3 separate regions of the Homo sapiens genome follow, and all the other regions are linked to region 1. The links come from fine-mapping of genetic effects on gene expression. A gene starts in region 1. Each other region holds a variant in brackets. All regions are shown on one strand. Distances are between the middles of the regions. Region 1 holds the start of CLEC12A (C-type lectin domain family 12 member A). Region 2 holds the start of LINC02470 (long intergenic non-protein coding RNA 2470). Region 3 holds the start of CLEC1B (C-type lectin domain family 1 member B).

Evidence for each region.
Region 2: its variant is fine-mapped to the expression of CLEC12A in whole blood (TOPMed, PIP above 0.99).
Region 3: its variant is fine-mapped to the expression of CLEC12A in monocytes after R848 (Quach 2016, PIP 0.95).

Annotation. Positions count from the first base shown.
Region 1 is chr12:9,968,943-9,974,998 of GRCh38, reverse strand. CLEC12A (C-type lectin domain family 12 member A) reads right to left here and starts at 3,590. Exons shown (of 6, transcript NM_138337.6): 1 at 3,312-3,590. The coding sequence starts at 3,402.
Region 2 is chr12:9,939,518-9,945,573 of GRCh38, reverse strand. It overlaps LINC02470 (long intergenic non-protein coding RNA 2470), which reads left to right and starts at 2,079. Exons shown (of 5, transcript NR_104634.2): 1 at 2,079-2,444; 2 at 3,002-3,085; 3 at 5,481-5,665. The variant T/C (reference allele first, on the strand shown) is at 3,530.
Region 3 is chr12:9,996,328-10,002,383 of GRCh38, reverse strand. CLEC1B (C-type lectin domain family 1 member B) reads left to right here and starts at 3,263. Exons shown (of 6, transcript NM_016509.4): 1 at 3,263-3,347; 2 at 4,004-4,102; 3 at 5,105-5,224; 4 at 5,384-5,538. The coding sequence starts at 3,284. It also overlaps a transcript of CLEC12A not described here. The variant A/GA (reference allele first, on the strand shown) is at 3,221.

The DNA of each region.
Region 1 (6,056 bases):
CTCCTCTTTATAAAACCATCAGATCTCATGAGACTTATTCACTATCACAAGAACAGCATGGGAAAAACCCGCTCCCATGATTCAATTACCTCCCACCATGTCCCTCCTACAGCATGTGGGACTTATGGGAGCTACAATTCAAGATGAGATTTGGGTGGAGACACAGTCAAACCATATCAGTATGTTTTGGTTTGAATTCTGGTTCTGCTGCTTATTGCTTGTGAAACCTCGGGAAAATTATTTAACACCTTTTAACATCTCTGTGTCTGAGTTTCAATATGGTTAAAGCATGGGAGACAGAAAGACTGCAAAGTATCAGACACTAAATAATTTAATATTTATAATGCAATTAGAACAGAACTGGCACAGAGAAAACACTTGAAAATTGTATTTAAATATATATTTATATGTGTATTTAATGAGATGAGGCTGTCTGGAGAGAGAGACAATTTTAGAAGAAAAATAAATATTACTATTTTTGACATTTTAAGTTTAAAATGAGATTAGAACTCCTTATGGAAATGTGAAAGTGGCACATGTATTTTCTAGTCTTGAGATTCAGGGAAAGGTCATACAGAGATATTGGGGAGTCACTCTATTTAAAGTCAAACAACTGAATGAGGTAGATTAGAAGAGTGTACTGAGTGATGCAATAAAACGGGACCCAGGACAGGGCTTCAGAGTATTCCATCTTGTAGAGTTTCATCTAGGAGGAGGAATCAACAAAGAATGAGGAGAGGCAGGCATGGTGACAGGAGAAGCCATGAGGATGTGTCAGGAGGGATGTGCAAAGAAAGCATTTAGAGGACTGTTCAACTTTTTCAATGCTGCAGGGAAGTGAAGTAATGGAAGAGACATGTGACTATTGGGATGAAACAGGCAGGACATCAGTGACCTAAAGCTCAGTCTCTATGGCACCAAGGGGGCAGAAGCCTAATAGAGTTGGTTGAGAACAGAATGAGAGGTGAAGAACTGAGAGTCAGTGGCCAAAGAAAATGCTTTCAAAAGTTGAGTTGTGAAAGGAAACAAAGAAGTTAAATAATAATGGAAAGGCTTAAGTGGTCAAGCAAGGATTGTGTTTTGTTATAAAAGGAGTAGCAGAGTATATTGGTGAGTAGTAGAGTATGTTGGTGCACCAAAAAGGAAAAGCAGAGAAGGAAGAGAGAATAATGACACAGGAGAGAAAGGAAAAAATTACGGAAGTCTGTCTTTGAAAACGACACATGGACTGAAATTCAGAGCAAAATGAGGAGCCGTCCCTTCATAAGTACATACTTATCGTAAATACTATCTGGAAGGAAAGCAGAGTATCAGTAAGGACATGGTAGGATAGACATTTAAATAACAACAAAAAAAAGTGTAGATGGATGCTTTTTTCTTACCAGAGGAAAGGTGAGAGTAACTGGGGTTGAAAATTTGTGTATTTTTCACCAGCAATATTCAACTCTGGGGCAGACTGGGTGGATATTCGGGTTTAACCAGAACTGGAGTTGTTTTTATTTGTTTGTTTTTGGGGTTTTTGTCTTGTTTTGTTTTGATTTGTTTGAGGCAGGATCTTGCTGTGTCACCCAGACTGGAGTACACTCGCCTGATCTTAGCTTACTAGAGCCTCCAACTCCTGGACTCAAGTAATCCTCTTTCCTCAGCCTCCCAAGCAGCTGAGACTATGGGTGCCCAGTTAATTAAAAAAATTTTTTTTTTATAGACATGGCATATCTCTACTTTCCCCAGGCTGGTCTCAAACTTCTGGCCTCAAATAATCCTCCCATCTTGGCCTCTCAAAGTGCTAGGACTATGGGTATGAGCCACTGCACCTAGCCAGAGCTGGAGTTTTTAAGGAAAAATTAACACACATTGAAGAGGAGAAGTGTAAGAGACTAAGAGTAGACATTACATAATACAATGTTATATTACATAATGTAGATTCTAAGCTCGATAATGAGAAAATTAGATGAGATTAAGAACATGAAGAAGACATGGATTCAATATTTCCGTGAATTCAGGGAATTCTTGTGGTGGGAACTTAAGGTGGATTGGCAGGAAAAGAGGTGGGAAAGGGTGTGAGAGGACAAGTAAAGGGCAATTGTTGGTAATATTAGGCTCATGATATGCCCATTCTCTTTCAGTGTATAAAAGAAGAAATATAAACAAGGAAATAAAGACAGAAAATATTGTAAAATTCTTAAACCCTTCTTCTTTCTAAAAAAAAATTTCAGTATTAAAAAAGAAGCCAACAGAATTAATCTGCTATCCTTTCTCAAGATTTACAATGCTCATCATAAATGGATCCAAGATGTAACAGTGAAATTTCTGTTTATAGCAATGCTAGAATATTAAAGATGTTATATTCTGTGTGGGGAGAGGAGAGAGGACAACAACTTAAATAATATGTGAGAATTTTGGCACTCTTCTCTCCTTATTTTTCTGTTTCTATCACCCTTCTTTGTGTTCTCCACTATCACTGTTTAAGTTATTTTTAACTCAAATACACTGATTTAAACTATGGATTCGCTAGGGCAGATTTCACTCCCAAAAGGCTAGGAGCCAGAAGGCAAGAACCATACATAATAGGAAAACTATAGGATTCTGAGTAAGATGAAGAGTAGTTTTGTTTAAGTGAAAGTCAACACAGATGGACCACTTATTTCATGATTTTAATTTGAATTGAAAAATACAAAGTTACTTGATATAATGTGGTTTTGAATATTATGAATATATTATGTCTTCTGATATTTCTTTACCTCTTTTCTTCCTTTATTCCTTAATGATTCATTTCATTTAACTTAACATGTTTTATTTTTTAGTAAGTTAGTAAAAAATCTCCAAAAGAAGTAGGAGAAATTTTAGGGTGATTTATGCTTAGTTTGGTAGATAGTCAAATGAAATCCTATAAAGGTCTCTCTGTCTGACACAAAGCATTTTCTTATAAAAAAAAAAACACACACACACACACACATATGAAATCATGACTTTCCTGAACATGTTTCTTTTTCCATGGCTTCATCTCATAAAGAAATAAAATCTTCATACAACCCAATCATTTGAAAAATTCTGTCCCAATTATATTGAGTGTGATAATAAAAAATTTCAAAAATGTAAAAGATTGATTATTCAATGCAGAGATAAGTGTTTTTACAAAACCCTTTTTTCTAATCATTTTGTTCATACACTTTTTGTTCCTTTGCTTAAACATAAGAGACTTAATTGAAAATTTAAGTTGAATAGTAACTATATCACTAATATTGAAGATGCAAGTCTATAACCACTTCTATTATACAAACTTACAACACATCCATAACTCAAAATCTTACCTTTTTCCCCAAATTTGCCAATTTCTGGGATTTTTTCCATCTCACTGGAGTTCTGGAATTGAAGATCTGCATAAGTAACTTCTTCAGACATTGATGAATATGTAAAGAAATCTTGACAAAGTGTAAAAACACAAAAAGATGAGTGAGTTAACAGAGCTGAATGTTAAACAGGACCTATAATTTTAAACTTCTGTTTATAAACGGAAGCTTAAGCTTACAAGTTTAAACTTCTGTTTATAAACCTACTGTACCAATCACCCATATGTCTGCAAATGAGCCAAATCTCATCTGTGGCTTCAGTTAAGAACATTGAACTGTTGCAACAGATAACATCTTTCTTCCTCATATTTCTTCCTTTTTCTCAATTTCTATATATTTACCAACTACAGAAAGTAGTTTTTGAAATTGTGTTTGGATAACATCATCAGTGTCATGCAAGAGAACACAAATAACTAGCACCACATGGTGCAGACATAGTGTAGGATTTATTGGTGAAAAACTTTCAAGCAGAAAAATAACAGAAAAGATGCAGTTCTCAGACACTCACTAATCTGCAGCTGTGGCCTGGCATAGATATTCCTTTTGTATGATGATGAAGGTCCTGATAGAAGGGTTCTCTTCACTGGGAGACTGAACATACAGAGAGCACTCCCAAGGAGAATGAGACAGTTAGTGTCATTCCGTTGCCATGTTACATAGCTATAGGTTTGCCTAAGAGAGGTAGGGAATGCCTAGTTTCTCTAAATAACAATATATAGGTTGGTGCTAAAGTAATTCTGGTTTTTGCCATTAAAAGCAAAAGTAATTGTGGTTTTTGCCATTAAAAGTTTACAAAATTACTTTAGCGCCAACCTATATATTAAGGGATCTGATGCCCAGAAACCACACCAGAGAGTATGCATACTGATGGCCAAGGTCTGTATACTGAGGGCTCTGGAAACAGCTTTGCAGGCCAGGAAAACTATAATCAGCCTTGCTATCTCTCTACAGACTGACTCAACCATTTGATCTCCTCCTCAGCTAAGCTATCAAAAGTGGGAGGGAAATGAGTCTCCAAAGTCCAGATTTGTGTCTTATTAGTTTGACTCAATAGTCTTAGTATTTTTTATTTCACTTCTTGATCAAGAATGCAAGTGGAAGTGAGGGGGTGGAGAGGACTGTTTTTGAGCATGTTCTCTAATATTCGTTAGTAAATCTTACTTTAAAATTCTTCTTGACATTGCCACATGTAAATCATAAAATGGTTAGGTATTATTATTATACATATGAAAGAGAATGCATAAATATTTTTAAAAATCAATTAAAAACTAATTGCTTTATTATGTCAGGATAGACAGGAAAAACAAAATGCTCCCTTTATAAGAGCTACTAAAAATAAATAGGAAAATATTACAGATAGAAATTAACTAGATATTTGCATAACCAAAATGAACAAAAAAATTTTAAAACTATTGAAGAAAAGAAAAAAATAGAAAAACATGCTGTGGGATTAGAAGCGTCAATACTGTATAAAAAGAAACTAAATTCTCCTAAATGTATCAAAAATTCAATGTCAATTTAATTAAAACAACTGATTTTCTCCTGATAAAGAAAAAGCTATTGAATACATTTGAAAATATTACCATGAAAATATTGGCAGCCACATTTAAAGGAAAATATATTCAAAACATGATTACTTCATCCTAAGTACTTTACTAATGTTGCTTTTATCTTTACAACTCTCTAAACCAGGTGCTATTATTATCACCCTTATTTTACAGATGCGGAAGTGAGTTGCAAAGTGGTTAAGTTTGTATCCAACATCACACAGTTGGTGAGTGGTAGAGTTGAGACCATCAAAGTCTCTGGTTGCCTTGTTCAAATATGTGCACAGGCTATAAGGCCTCTCCTGGTGGGAAAGAGTAGCCCTCTATTTTTCCTAGGTGGATCAAATATTTGCATATAAATATTTGTTTATAAATATCTCTTTGTTTGTGAAAGGATGGAAACCGGCCACCACACAGGCAGAGTCCTGTTCTGTGTTCTATTGCTCTGCTGTCTCATGTGGAACGTTGTTTCATCAATCAACACTAGAAGATGAAGCGTATATGACGAACTGTAAAGGGAAACAAATGAAAAATCTCAAAGTCCTGTTTGCAAGGTACTCTATTTTGTTGAAAATATTTGAATAAGTATTACTTCATACAAAATCCTTGGTTTAGAGCCAGCTAAAACATTTATATCCACAAGAATAAGCTGAGCTCTGAGATGACTACATGGTTTGCCCTTCACAGCCTATATCAGTTTTTTAAAAATTTTGTTATTGATACAAAATAGTTGTATGTATTTTGGAGGTACATGTGATATTTTGAAACCTGTATACAATGTGTAATGACCAAATCAGGGTAATAAGAATATTCATTCCGTCAAACACTTACCTTTTCCTTCTGTTGGGAATAGTACATTTCTTCTCTTTTAGCTATTTTGAAATATACAATAAATTATTGTCAACTATAGTTTTCCCACTGTACTATCAAATACTAGAATTTGTTCCTTCTATCTAATTTTATTTTTGTACCCAACCAACTTATCTTTATCCCCCACCACCCCTTTCTAAGCCTCTGGTAACCACAATTCTACTCTCTGCTTCCATGAGATTCATTCTTTTAGCTCTCACATATGAGTGGAAACATGTGATATTTGTCTTTCTGTGCCTGGCTTATTTCAGTTAACATAATGACCTTCAGTTCCACTCCTGTTTCTGCA
Region 2 (6,056 bases), 29 kb after region 1:
CCTCTTTATTCCAGACTTCTGGCCTCCAGAACTGTGAGATACCACATTTCTACCATTTATAGCTTTGAAATCTGTGCTAATTAATTACTGAAGTCACAAGAATACATTACATAAATAAGTATAAATAATTCTTATGTATAGAATAAGGTCTATACACATACAATATATGCTTATACATGCATATGTATGTGTTTGTATATGTATTTGTGTGTGTATATATATGAAAATTTATATATATATATGAAAATTTATATATATATATATATCTCCAGGCTGGAGTGCAATGGCGGGACGCCGGCTCACTACAACCTCCGCCTCCTGGGTTCAAGCGATTCTCCTGCCTCAGCCTCCTGAGTAGCTGGGATTACAGGCGTCTGCCACCACACCAGGCTAATTTTTGTATTTTTAGTAGAGACGGGGTTTCACCATGTTGGCCAAACTGGTTTCAAACTCCTTGACTTCAGATGCTCTGCCTGCCTCAGCCTCCCAATGTGCTGGGATTACAGGCGTGAGCCACAGTGCCCGGCCGTATATGTATATTTTAAAGAGAATGTCTGTGGGGAGTAGGGTGTGTGTATAAACTTTACTTTGCGTGGTTCTAATATGCATAAACTTCACTTCTCACAGTTTAATTAAATAACTCCCCAACAGCACAGTTTAATTCTTTCAGCGTACTTATCTGTATTTGTATTATATTTACTGTAAGTAATTGTATAAAGTAGAAACTTCCATGCTAGTTTTTCAGTTCACGAATCACTATATACATGTTTGTATTGTGATTAACGACCAACCATGTCACTTTTTTCCAAGTCTGTCAATGATTGATTGGTCACCATGCATCTTTTATCAGTTAATACAGAATAAGATGGAGAGTTATTCTGTATTATTTTGTAAATGTCACATGGGTTTGTCACTGTATGACAAATTCCAAAGGAAATTTGAAACAGGAAGACAAGAAGAGGAAGGTAATTGAAACAGGAAATTGGTTAGTGACACAAAGTGCAGCAAAAAATGATGGCGCTGAAAGGGGAAATAAAATAGAAGAGAAATGAAGTTAGAGAAGCAATAGCTGTTGATAGGGTTATTAATAATTCACCTTTTGAAGAGTCTCTAGATAATGCAACCAGAGGAATTTAGTAAAGGCACACTTATTGACAAAAATAAGGTAAGTGGTTGTGATGAAAAGAATGAAGAGGTCCCAGAGGAAGTTATACGAGCTAAAGTGTTCACATCAAATGAACTCTCAATGTGTTTCCTAACATTTCAAGTGCAAAGAATAGTATATTGGAAGTCTATCCAAATTTAGGAATAAAAAAGCTTGAGAAGGCATCTAAAAGATGCTGGCTCCATATTGTAAGCGATAGAACAACAACAGCACGTACTCAATTCACACTACTCATTTTCTTTTAAGCAAAACACTTGAAACTCAGTGTTTTTAATGTTTTAATTATAGCATACTTTAAAAATATTAATTTTATTGTTGTTTACATTTCCCTATACGTTTATGAGTGACAGTAAAGTAATTTTCAATCAGGAAAAGAGGATAAAGGAAAAATCATACTTTTCCCTATTATTAAAATAGCTTGGTGTGATATCAGCTTGTGCAGTAATTTTTATTATCACACACTACAGTGCAAAATAAAAACTGCCTGTATATGAAACAAGCTTTCATTAGTTCCTATGAAAACATGTAAAAACAATGGCTTTGTTTTCCCACATTTTACTAAACACTCCACAGGTACACTTAGAACACAGTGGTTAAAAATGTAGAACAGAAAAAAGTTATTAAAAACAAGAAAATGGGGGCAGATCCACTTTGTGGCGTGAGAGAATGTGTACACTTTCCAGTGCAGGCAATTTATGTTATATACCTGTGTCCAATCGGAGATTTTTAGGGAGACAATATAAAGAAGCCGGAAAGGGAGGGTATGGGACTCCCCATTCTCTGCTCTGCGTACCAAGCAGGTGGGAGGTGAGGTGCCCATTAGGTTGAATTCTTATCGCTGTGCCCCAGCCAATCGTGGGCTGCGGAAATCATGGGCTGTAGAGTCATCGCTGCCGGGGCAGAGGCACCGTTGGTGCATGCCCGGCTGCCGTTGCTGCCCCTGCCTCGTACAAACGTCAGAGAAGGCACATGACACGCCCCTGGGGGCCATCTGGCCCAAGTCCACCTGCGCGGCTGAGTGGAGGATGCTAGGTTGCTGTGCTGTTTCTCCTACTGTCTTGCTGCCGCACCACCCCTCAGAAAAACCGGGTCGTCAGTTTCCTGCGGTTTGCACTCACCAAATATACTTAGCAATTTGCAATTCACCCGCAGGATTATTCCAGCCTCTGTGATCACACACAGAAGGATGAGCCTTCCTCGTGAGGGTTGGAGATGGAGGGAGAAGGGATGGAGAGTAAGGATGGGACGGAGGTTGTGGAGCAGCAGACCAACACGCCAGGTGGGTGAGGTTGTGTGATTATTCTAGCATCTTTTCTTGATCCTAGCTTGCACCCTTTTAGCATTGGGAGGGAAGGGCAGGGTAGGGGATAGCGACCATAATATAGATCTTAAGTAAAAGCAGTTTTCATTAATAAAACAAAGACTTCAATAATAATGATAATTGGCGATTCCAGCCTCCTCCATCATATTGGAAAAGACAGTATTTCATTAAAAATACTTGGAATTTTCCCTTGGAAAAGGCAGTATTTTATTAAAAGACGCTGCGAGGAAACTGTTGGTTTTCTGTTCTGGAAGCAGGGCAGAAGAATTAGTAACACAGTTCTGCCAAATAGCACAGGAAAGTGGAGCCAAAGCACCTTCGAGGCTCCTGATGTTCAAACGTTAGGTCTTAGTTCCCTTTCTTATTTTTCTAATACATTAATTGCTGAATTGTGAACAGTAGAACACGCGGAAGATAGAGAAAAGAGATAAACATGATGGGTTTTTTGTTGGTTTGCTTGCTTTTTTTCTCTCTGGAACATAAACAATGACATCTGTTTCTCTTTGGTATAATAGAAAGGAAAATAATGATCATCTCAATTTTTATATGTGGAGGCATTGCTTTTCTTCTTTGGGGGATTTTAAGATTTCCCAGAAAATGTAAGTAAACAATTTCTGCTAAAATTATTAAATTAAATTGTTAAAATTATTGTATTATTGATTCAGTTGGATACCAATAACTAGTCTTTCCTTCCTTAATATAGAACAATTTAGAGATAAAAGCATTTTCCAAGACAGTGCATCTAATTGCTCTTCAAACTTAGTCACCTGCTTCACCTTCTAGAATAATCAGTCTTTCAATAAATATGTATCAAGCTTTAGGCACAGTGCTGCCTGCTGATGATATAACAATGAAAAAAAATGGTATTTCTTGCCTGAAAGTAGTTTATCTTTAACTGAATATGGAAGCATGTAAGCAAACAACTGTAACACAAAAGAAATAATTACTAAATAGAACTATGTTGAATTTGAAGCAGGAGAGGAGATTATAAGTTAGCTGCTTGTAGTCAAGGCTTTAATGAAGGGAGAAATATTTGTGCTGAA[T/C]CTTAAACTCAAGTAGGCGTTTATCAAAGATCATCTTAGAACACACATGTCAGAGAATCACACCAGGTATAATTATGATGGAGTTACAAAGAAGTAGGGTGAGGGACTGGCAATTGTATTATAGTTCCCTAGTGCATTAACTCTTTCACTGCCATTCATTAGCAATTTATACCTTGTCCTTCATCTCCATTCTCCTCATGCTCATTCTCATGTCTATACCCTTGCTTCCAACTTGTTCTAATTTTAACAATTTGTAGGAAACTTCCAAATGCTCCCATCACCACACCAGCTTACTTACTCCATCTCTGCCCCTACACTCTGCCTAGACTCCTGGAACTGTAGATGCAGTATTCATGTTCTACAATAGATCCTATATTCTTTCACTGGATCAGTAATATCACCCTAGTAATTCTCCACTCTCCTACATTATCCTTTTTTCATCCTCAACTGAAACATCTCCATCAGCAAATATGACATACTGGTATCTATATCAACCTTGAAAAAATAAACAACAAAAACAACAGAATTTATTAGACCCCACTTATCTTTTAGCAACCAATTTATTGTTTTTCTCCTTGGTACAGCAACCTCTTTAAAACGGCTTTTCAAAATAATTTTTTATCTTTCCTTTTTCTGTTAAATCCACTTGGATCAAGCTTCCACTCTGCTTTTTCCACCAAACTTGTCTTTCAAGTTCACCAATAACTTCCATATTGCTAAATCGACTGGTCCATTCTCCCTCCTCACCTTATTATATAACCTATTTGCAGCTTTTGGCACTCCCTTTTTCTAAAAAAAAAAAAAAATTTCATTTGACTTACATGACGCCATATTCTTGTGGTTTGCTTTCTACTCATTTTACCAACAACCGTGATTCCCTGATTCTCCTTCACTCTGATCTATTTTACGACAAACTATATAATTTCAGACGCATAAGTCCCATAAGAGTAGGTATTTCTGTATGTTATGTAGGCTATTCATAGAGTTACAAAAATGTCTGGCGTGTAGCAGGTGCTCAATCGGTAGTTGTTGACTGCGTAAATGAAAGAATGAATTAATTAGTAAATGAATGAGAAAACTGCCTTTCTGGTGACCCAAGTTTTGAATTAAGTATTTGGTTTTTATATTGGTTATTGATTTGAATTTGACATTTTAAAATAATTTTGAACATGACACATTCAAATAACTTTGATAACTTGATTTTTTCACTTCACTCTCAGGTCTCAACTATATAGAACCATATTGCCAGTTGATCCTTCCCATTGAGGATTTTCCCACTCACAGATTTGAAGATGAACCAGTCATTTATTTTAGTTGTGGATAGGAGGTGCTCTCAGAGCTTGTTTCTTTCAGGATTATACCTTAACAAGGAACTTCCTTTATCTAGTGCAGTAACTTAAGGAGTAAAAGTGGAGAGTAAAAAGGGAAATTTTAGCATTCTTTTTTCTGTGTTTCTTGTTTCATAACGGACAAGGAAACAGCGCCACCTTCTAGAGAAATGCTGTCTTTGAAAGACAATATAGTCTCAGTTAAGTTGATGATAGGAACCAGCTCACTGAAGTTATGAATATAGAAAAATTTGTTTATTTACACTGCAACTTGTTCTAGAGAGCATAGTAAATTTTAGGAAAGAAATAGATGAATAAAGAAAATTCATGTAGTCTAAAAATTAGGAGGGAAAATGGCTGGAAGATACTGAATTTCTGGAAGTTTGTTATTGAGTTTTTAAATTTTTCATAGCTCTCATTCTCCAGTGCTTATTCCTTTCATGTTCTCTTCTCGATATTCAATTTTTTTGAATTGATGTTTAAAGTTAAGTCATTCAAATTGAATATGTAAGTAAAACACATTTTATTAGTCTGAGCTATATAATAATATTTTACTCTGAAGCTCACTCTTTCTTTCTTTGATACTTTCTTTATTCTTTTTCTCTATTACCTGTTAATTTCAGTTGGAATTCCAAGGCACCTTAGAAACAAGACATGCCTAGAAAATTTGACTATGTGTCCACAAGGCTGGAACTGAATCAATAATAATTGCTTCTTTCAATCTGAACATGAAACAACGTGGATCAATGGCTGAGAAAACTGCAGAAGTTATGGATCTCTGGCCAGGCTCAACTCTCAGAATGAAATGGTTAGATTTCTTCTTTGCAATATTAAACTCATTTAATAGCTACTAAAAGACAGGCACACTCCTAGGGTGTAATACATTAGCAAACCAAAGAATCAAAGATCTTTGCCCTTGTGGAGTTTACATGCTAGGGGAAGAGATAAGCAATGAAAAATTATCTTATTAAATATGTAATTTATATATTGTGTTAGAAGTTGGAAAGTTTTATGCAAAAAAATGAAAATTAAGGGAGTGGGTTTACTGCAGGTAAGGTTATATCCCAATAAGATGGTGACATTTTAGGAAGGATGTGAAGCAGGTAAGGGACTATCTAGAAGTGAACTTTCCAGGAAAGGAAAATGGCTGGAGCGTGTGTCTTAAGGCCAGTGAATGTCTGGAATATTCAAGGAACAGA
Region 3 (6,056 bases), 27 kb before region 1:
TGCTTCATAAAGACTAACCTCATGATTTTTCTCCATGAATACTCAGCACCAATTTCAGTGTCTGAAACATAATTAACATTCATTAAATATTTCCTTTAAAACAGACAATTTAGAGTGTTCTTAATCTGTAAAATATTGAATGAATAAAAGGTTTTATTTTAAATTCAATTTCATCAGGAAATTTGGAATAAAGAATTTTTTTAGGCCAGGCGCGGTAGCTAAAGCCTGTAATCCCAGCACTTTGGGAGGCCGAGGCGGGTGGATCACGAGGTCAGGAGATCAAGACCATCCTGACTAACACGGTGAAACCGCGTCTCTACTAAAAATACAAAAAAAATTAGCCAGGCGTGGTGGTGGGCGCCTGTACTCCCAGCTACTCGGGAGGCTGAGGCAGGAGAACGGCGTGAACCCAGGAGGCGGAGCTTGCAGTGAGCCAAGATGGCGCCACTGCACTCCAGCCTGGACGACAGAGCAAGACTCAGTCTCAAAAAAAAAAAAAAAAGATTTTGTTTAGCTGTATATAGTTTCCTTAGTGAAGAAAAGGAGAAGAGAATAAGATATTCAAGCAAGGTTAAAATATTGAAGCAGAAATAAAATAAGCTAATAACGGGACTTGGAGGGTGATTAAAAGGTAACTAGCAAAGACTCTGGATTTGGGAAAAGGAAAAGAAGCATTTGTGATATCTATCTCTCTTTCCTGCAGTTCTCTGCTTAATTTTTGCTGAGTAACTCAACTTACATTTATAGAATGTGGGGAGGGAGCAAAATTAGAACTCAATGTTATCAAGGGCTAGTTCCTTTGGCCCTGAGAGTCTCTGTCTTCGCTCAGCTTGCTTCTAACACCACAAAGTCATGTGAGGGGGGATACACAGAAAGGCAAACGTATATTTTGTGGAACACAGATAAGATATAAGACTCTCAGACTGTGGCTGGAATGATCAAAGATCCAAAAAGCAAGGTTAAATTACAATGAGAAAGAGGAATGAAGCAATGGAAAGTCCAGAGCCTGAGATATAGGAAAGGAATATCTTCAAAGGCGGAGTGTTAACCTACTTCAGGCATTAAATATGCAGTTCTAAGCATTAAAGGATCAAGAACTAATCCTGGCACATTCCTGGTGGTTTACAAAAATACATGGGACATGTTTTATAATGAAATCAGCTGCTCAAGTCCTAGAGAATGTGGAAACCTCAACAAAGCAATCTAATTGTTCTCTTTAATACCATCTTAAAGTTTTTGTTAATAAACAAAAAATGTTTACAATAATTTAAAAATTGTCTCAATGTCCTTGGATCTTACCTTTACATATCTGATTTAATGTAACAAATTAAGTTTTCATATGTACCTGTTTGGTACCTAAGAGAACAGAGTAAAGCTTTATTGGAAAAGTGTCATTTGTACTATAACCTCCACACATTTTCTTTTCTCTCTGTTACTTTGTCACAGTTATTTATTCGATTATTTTTTAGTGTTTCTGTATATTTTAGGTAACAAAACACTGAAGGAAAGCAGTGACCAAAAGAACGTGAAAGACAGGGGTTACTGTGACAGAATAGCCTCAGGACTTGCTGATGAGTAGATGTAGAAAGGAAGGAAGAGAGGGAGGATCAAACCCCATTCCAACCCCAATCTTCCAGAAAAGCCTGAGGATAAATGATGGGAGAGCGAAGAATCCCTTTTAGCTGAAACAGAAGTTATGAGAACAGAAGCAGTGGTAGATGAATGGTAAGTGACTGAATTTACCCAGCTTATGATTGGGAACCCCTGAATATTTTAACTGAGATAAGAAACACAGCAACAAAAATGGTGTTGGGATTTAATGTTTTTTAAAAATTTTTAGTCTTTTCTTAAAATTTGGCATTTATTTCAAATGTGTTTTTTTTTAATTAAGAATTAGTTTTGGTAAAAATATTTGAATCATACTAAGTTTGGCTTTCCAAAATCAGGGAATGTCTTTTATACGTGTTATGCTTATTCTTCACCTCATTCTCAAAATAATTTGAAGAGTATAGAGAAAGAAATTTAGAATGAAAGATAATTTTAAGTGAATTGACAAGAAATTCAGAGTGAAGGAGATAGCAGGGGAGAAAAAATCTACGGGCTATGCCAAAGGGCATGTTAATAAACAAAATATCTGCTACTGCAGCCCACATAATCACTATATTGAAAAGTCTAACACTCTGCTAAGTAAAGAAAAATAGAATTCAAATTATTTATAAGGTAAATGCCTACTACTTAAAGCTTTGCTAGTCATGGTGATTTAACAAAAATAAAAATCTGCCATAAAACTATGTAAGAGTTACCCTATGGCAAAATAGACAACATCCTCCCCAATATTCCTATAATAAATGCATCAGCTAGCTTTGTATGGCTGTTCTTACAACTACTTTCAGTGCAAGCTAAAATAATGTAAAAGCCCATTTCATAAAGTTAAGTGTGTGCAATACATATTATATTGTGATGAAAAGGTGCTAGGAACCATTCAGTCTCAAATATTCATCTAAGCACAGCTGTACTTGAAATGAAGTGATTTCATCAAATCAAAATTCTTCCATTCCAGGAAACTCACTTTAAAGCACAAACACTACTAAAGAACAATGCAGCAAGTCACCAACTCTGTATTATTTTACTTGATTTGATAGTTTTCCTTCAATACCTAAATCTAAGCAATATCAGGCCTGCCTCATGTGGATCCTTCAAATAAAAAAAAGTATGAAATATGCAAGAAGTTGTGTAAATTCTAGGTCATAATCAGGAATGATCTCTTCCAACACAAGACTATGAAACAGCTAATTTAGCCCCTATCAGATCCAATTATATTACACTTGCTTCTCACAATGAGATAAACTATATATCTGCTGGTGAGCTATATCCATGAATTTTCAGCAGAAATCTCTCATTTGAGCAATGTAATTTAGACTAAGCTAGGGCTAAGATAAAGCATGAACTTTTGTTCTTAGAAAGGATGCACATGATGGAATGTCCCTTTATTTAGTGTTGAAGATAAAAAAAAAGCAGGAAGCAAATACCTTATCTACTCCTTTACCACAAGTTATTATTATTTTTGTGTTTTTGTGTTCAAGGTCCATGTATCTCTGAGCAGCTATGAAGAAGCTTCCTGGAAAACAATAAGCAAAGGAAAACAAATGTGTCCCATCTCACATGGTTCTACCCTACTAAAGACAGGAAGATCATAAACTGACAGATACTGAAATTGTAA[A/GA]GTTGGAAACTACATTTTGCAAAGTCATTGAACTCTGAGCTCAGTTGCAGTACTCGGGAAGCCATGCAGGATGAAGATGGATACATCACCTTAAATATTAAAACTCGGAAACCAGCTCTCATCTCCGGTAAGAATGCTCAGAGCCAATAATTTGGAAATTAATTTAAAAAATGAGTTGATTCAATTCTTTCTTTTTCTACTATTGATAATATATATAGTTTAATTTCTTTTTCTTGAATGATGTTAATGCTCTAAAGCATTTGAGTAGTGTTTTCATAAGCTCATACAGACCTATTTAGATTACAAACATCCAATATATGTGCAGGGAAAATTGCATTAAGATTCTGAGCGTTTAATACTCGAGGGCATAGAAGTCAAGGGGATAACGGAAAAGAGTGGAAATTTCATTTTCTATATGTGAGCAAATGAGTGTGATTCTTCATTTGCTGTTTATTAAAGCAATTATTTATGGCATGGGTGAGCATAAAACAAAACAAAACAAAACAAAACAAAACAAAAAATACAAACACATCAGGCCTTAACAGCAAGTAATATTTCAGCTTGGAGAGGTAAAGTGCATTGGAGATGAGAATGGATGTATGGTATAGGGGTGGGCCATGCCTATTGTTGATGATCATGAGGAGAACACAGGTGAGATCTGCCAGCAAAGCTCTTTCTATTACTTGGAGGACCCTGAGAAGGCAGGGGCAGGGGCAGGGGTGAGCCTTCCCCATAGCTAACCCATACTGCCTGCTCCTTGATGTCTTTATTATATGCCTACAGTTGGCTCTGCATCCTCCTCCTGGTGGCGTGTGATGGCTTTGATTCTGCTGATCCTGTGCGTGGGGATGGTTGTCGGGCTGGTGGCTCTGGGGATTTGGTGTAAGTGTTGACTCTGCCAGAAATTTGACTGGAGGAAGGTAATACTGAAGGGTCATGGCATATCCCACTAAGCTTCTCAATGGTCGCTATTTGTCTGTTTATCACTTCTACAGTTGTCCTACAGATAGTTGCCAAGAGAATCTCAATAAAGGAGAACACTGACTGTTTCCTTGTGATTAAAATAAGATTTTAAGATTTTAACTAATGAAAAGTTATTTTTAAGAATGTACTACTGGCCTTTAAGACCCTCCTCAGTGTGGATCCAAACTATTTTTAAAAACTTTTTCATCCCTTTTCCTATCTTGCATTCCTAAGAACCAGCCAAACTGGAGTTTTTCAATTTCATATATAAATTCCATGTTCCCTTGTCTGAAATTTTTCTCATTCTATTCTCTCTACCTAAAATTTTCTGTTTCTCATTTTGTTTACTAAGTTACTGTGCATTTCTTCTTTCTGTAATTCTCATGGCCCTCCAATAGCACATTGAAGTCTGTGTAGTTGTTGCTTGTTTGTGTATTTGTTGATTTTTTTAAAAGATGTTAGAATCTAACATTTATCCTCTTGTATTTCTTTATTATTTACCTGAATATCACAAGTACTTTAAGCATAACAAGAAATCAGTATGTATTTTTAAATGAATGAATAGTTTGGCATCACAGAAAGAACAGAAAATAAGAGGTCATTCACCTCTATAACTCAGCTGAGAAGCTTGTATTCAAGCAAATGAATACAGGCTCTGGGGATGTTATCGATGTTGGGATTTTTTATTTGTGATTGTCTCCTTCAAACAGTTCACTTATTAACCCTCAGGCGTCAGTTCTGTGTATTTCTTAATTTGTTCTTTATAGCCCCTCCACACTTTTCAACATTCATTTAATCATGTGTATCTAGTAAACTCCTCATATATTGGCAAAGTTAAGGAAATGAAAATTCAATGACAGACCTTTGCATCATTTCTATGGTTCTAATTACAAATTATTATTATTTACTTTTTAAACCTAGCTGTCATGCAGCGCAATTACCTACAAGGTGAGAATGAAAATCGCACAGGAACTCTGCAACAATTAGCAAAGCGCTTCTGTCAATATGTGGTAAAACAATCAGAACTAAAGGGCACTTTCAGTAAGTATTGTTTTTTTAACCTCTTCATCTCTCCAACCCCTGGAGCATTTCTCTGATGGCAACTGAAGGGAGTTTGAGATCTGCAGAAAACATTGAATGTGAAGAAAATGTAAGCCCAATTTAGAAAAAATACACCATTCCTGTGCTTGGTTTCTCCAGAAGGTCATAAATGCAGCCCCTGTGACACAAACTGGAGATATTATGGAGATAGCTGCTATGGGTTCTTCAGGCACAACTTAACATGGGAAGAGAGTAAGCAGTACTGCACTGACATGAATGCTACTCTCCTGAAGATTGACAACCGGAACATTGTGGTAAGAAGATTCTTATGTCAAATATTTTGGAGGCAAGGAAGAGAAACCTCAAATGTAACACTTGACCTTTTTTTGTTTTTTACATTTTTCTTAACATCTTTCAGTTTGTACTAATCTAAGACCCTTGTGAAACCTAGTAAGAATTACAGAACCCAGATATTCAATCCACTCATAATATTCTACAACACTGATAGAGTTGATCAGTCAAATTGACTTGTCCCTTCCTGACAGCTCAGGTACATAGTGGGTCACACATGAAGAGTCAGCCCAGTGATGTTCATATTTATTTGTGTCCTCTGTTGTTCTAACTTGCTGTGCTGTCCACTTACTGTTTCTGTGGACTCAGACGCATACGGAAGATATCCAGTTACATAAATTAGCTTTTCTTTCCACTCCAGCAAAATAAGATAGTTTTCTAAAATCTCAGCTCTATTATATAGAGATTAATTCGAGACATATATGCATATCCTTAATTTGTATTAGTCTAGGCAGATGCCAGGTTGAAGATTTATAACTAA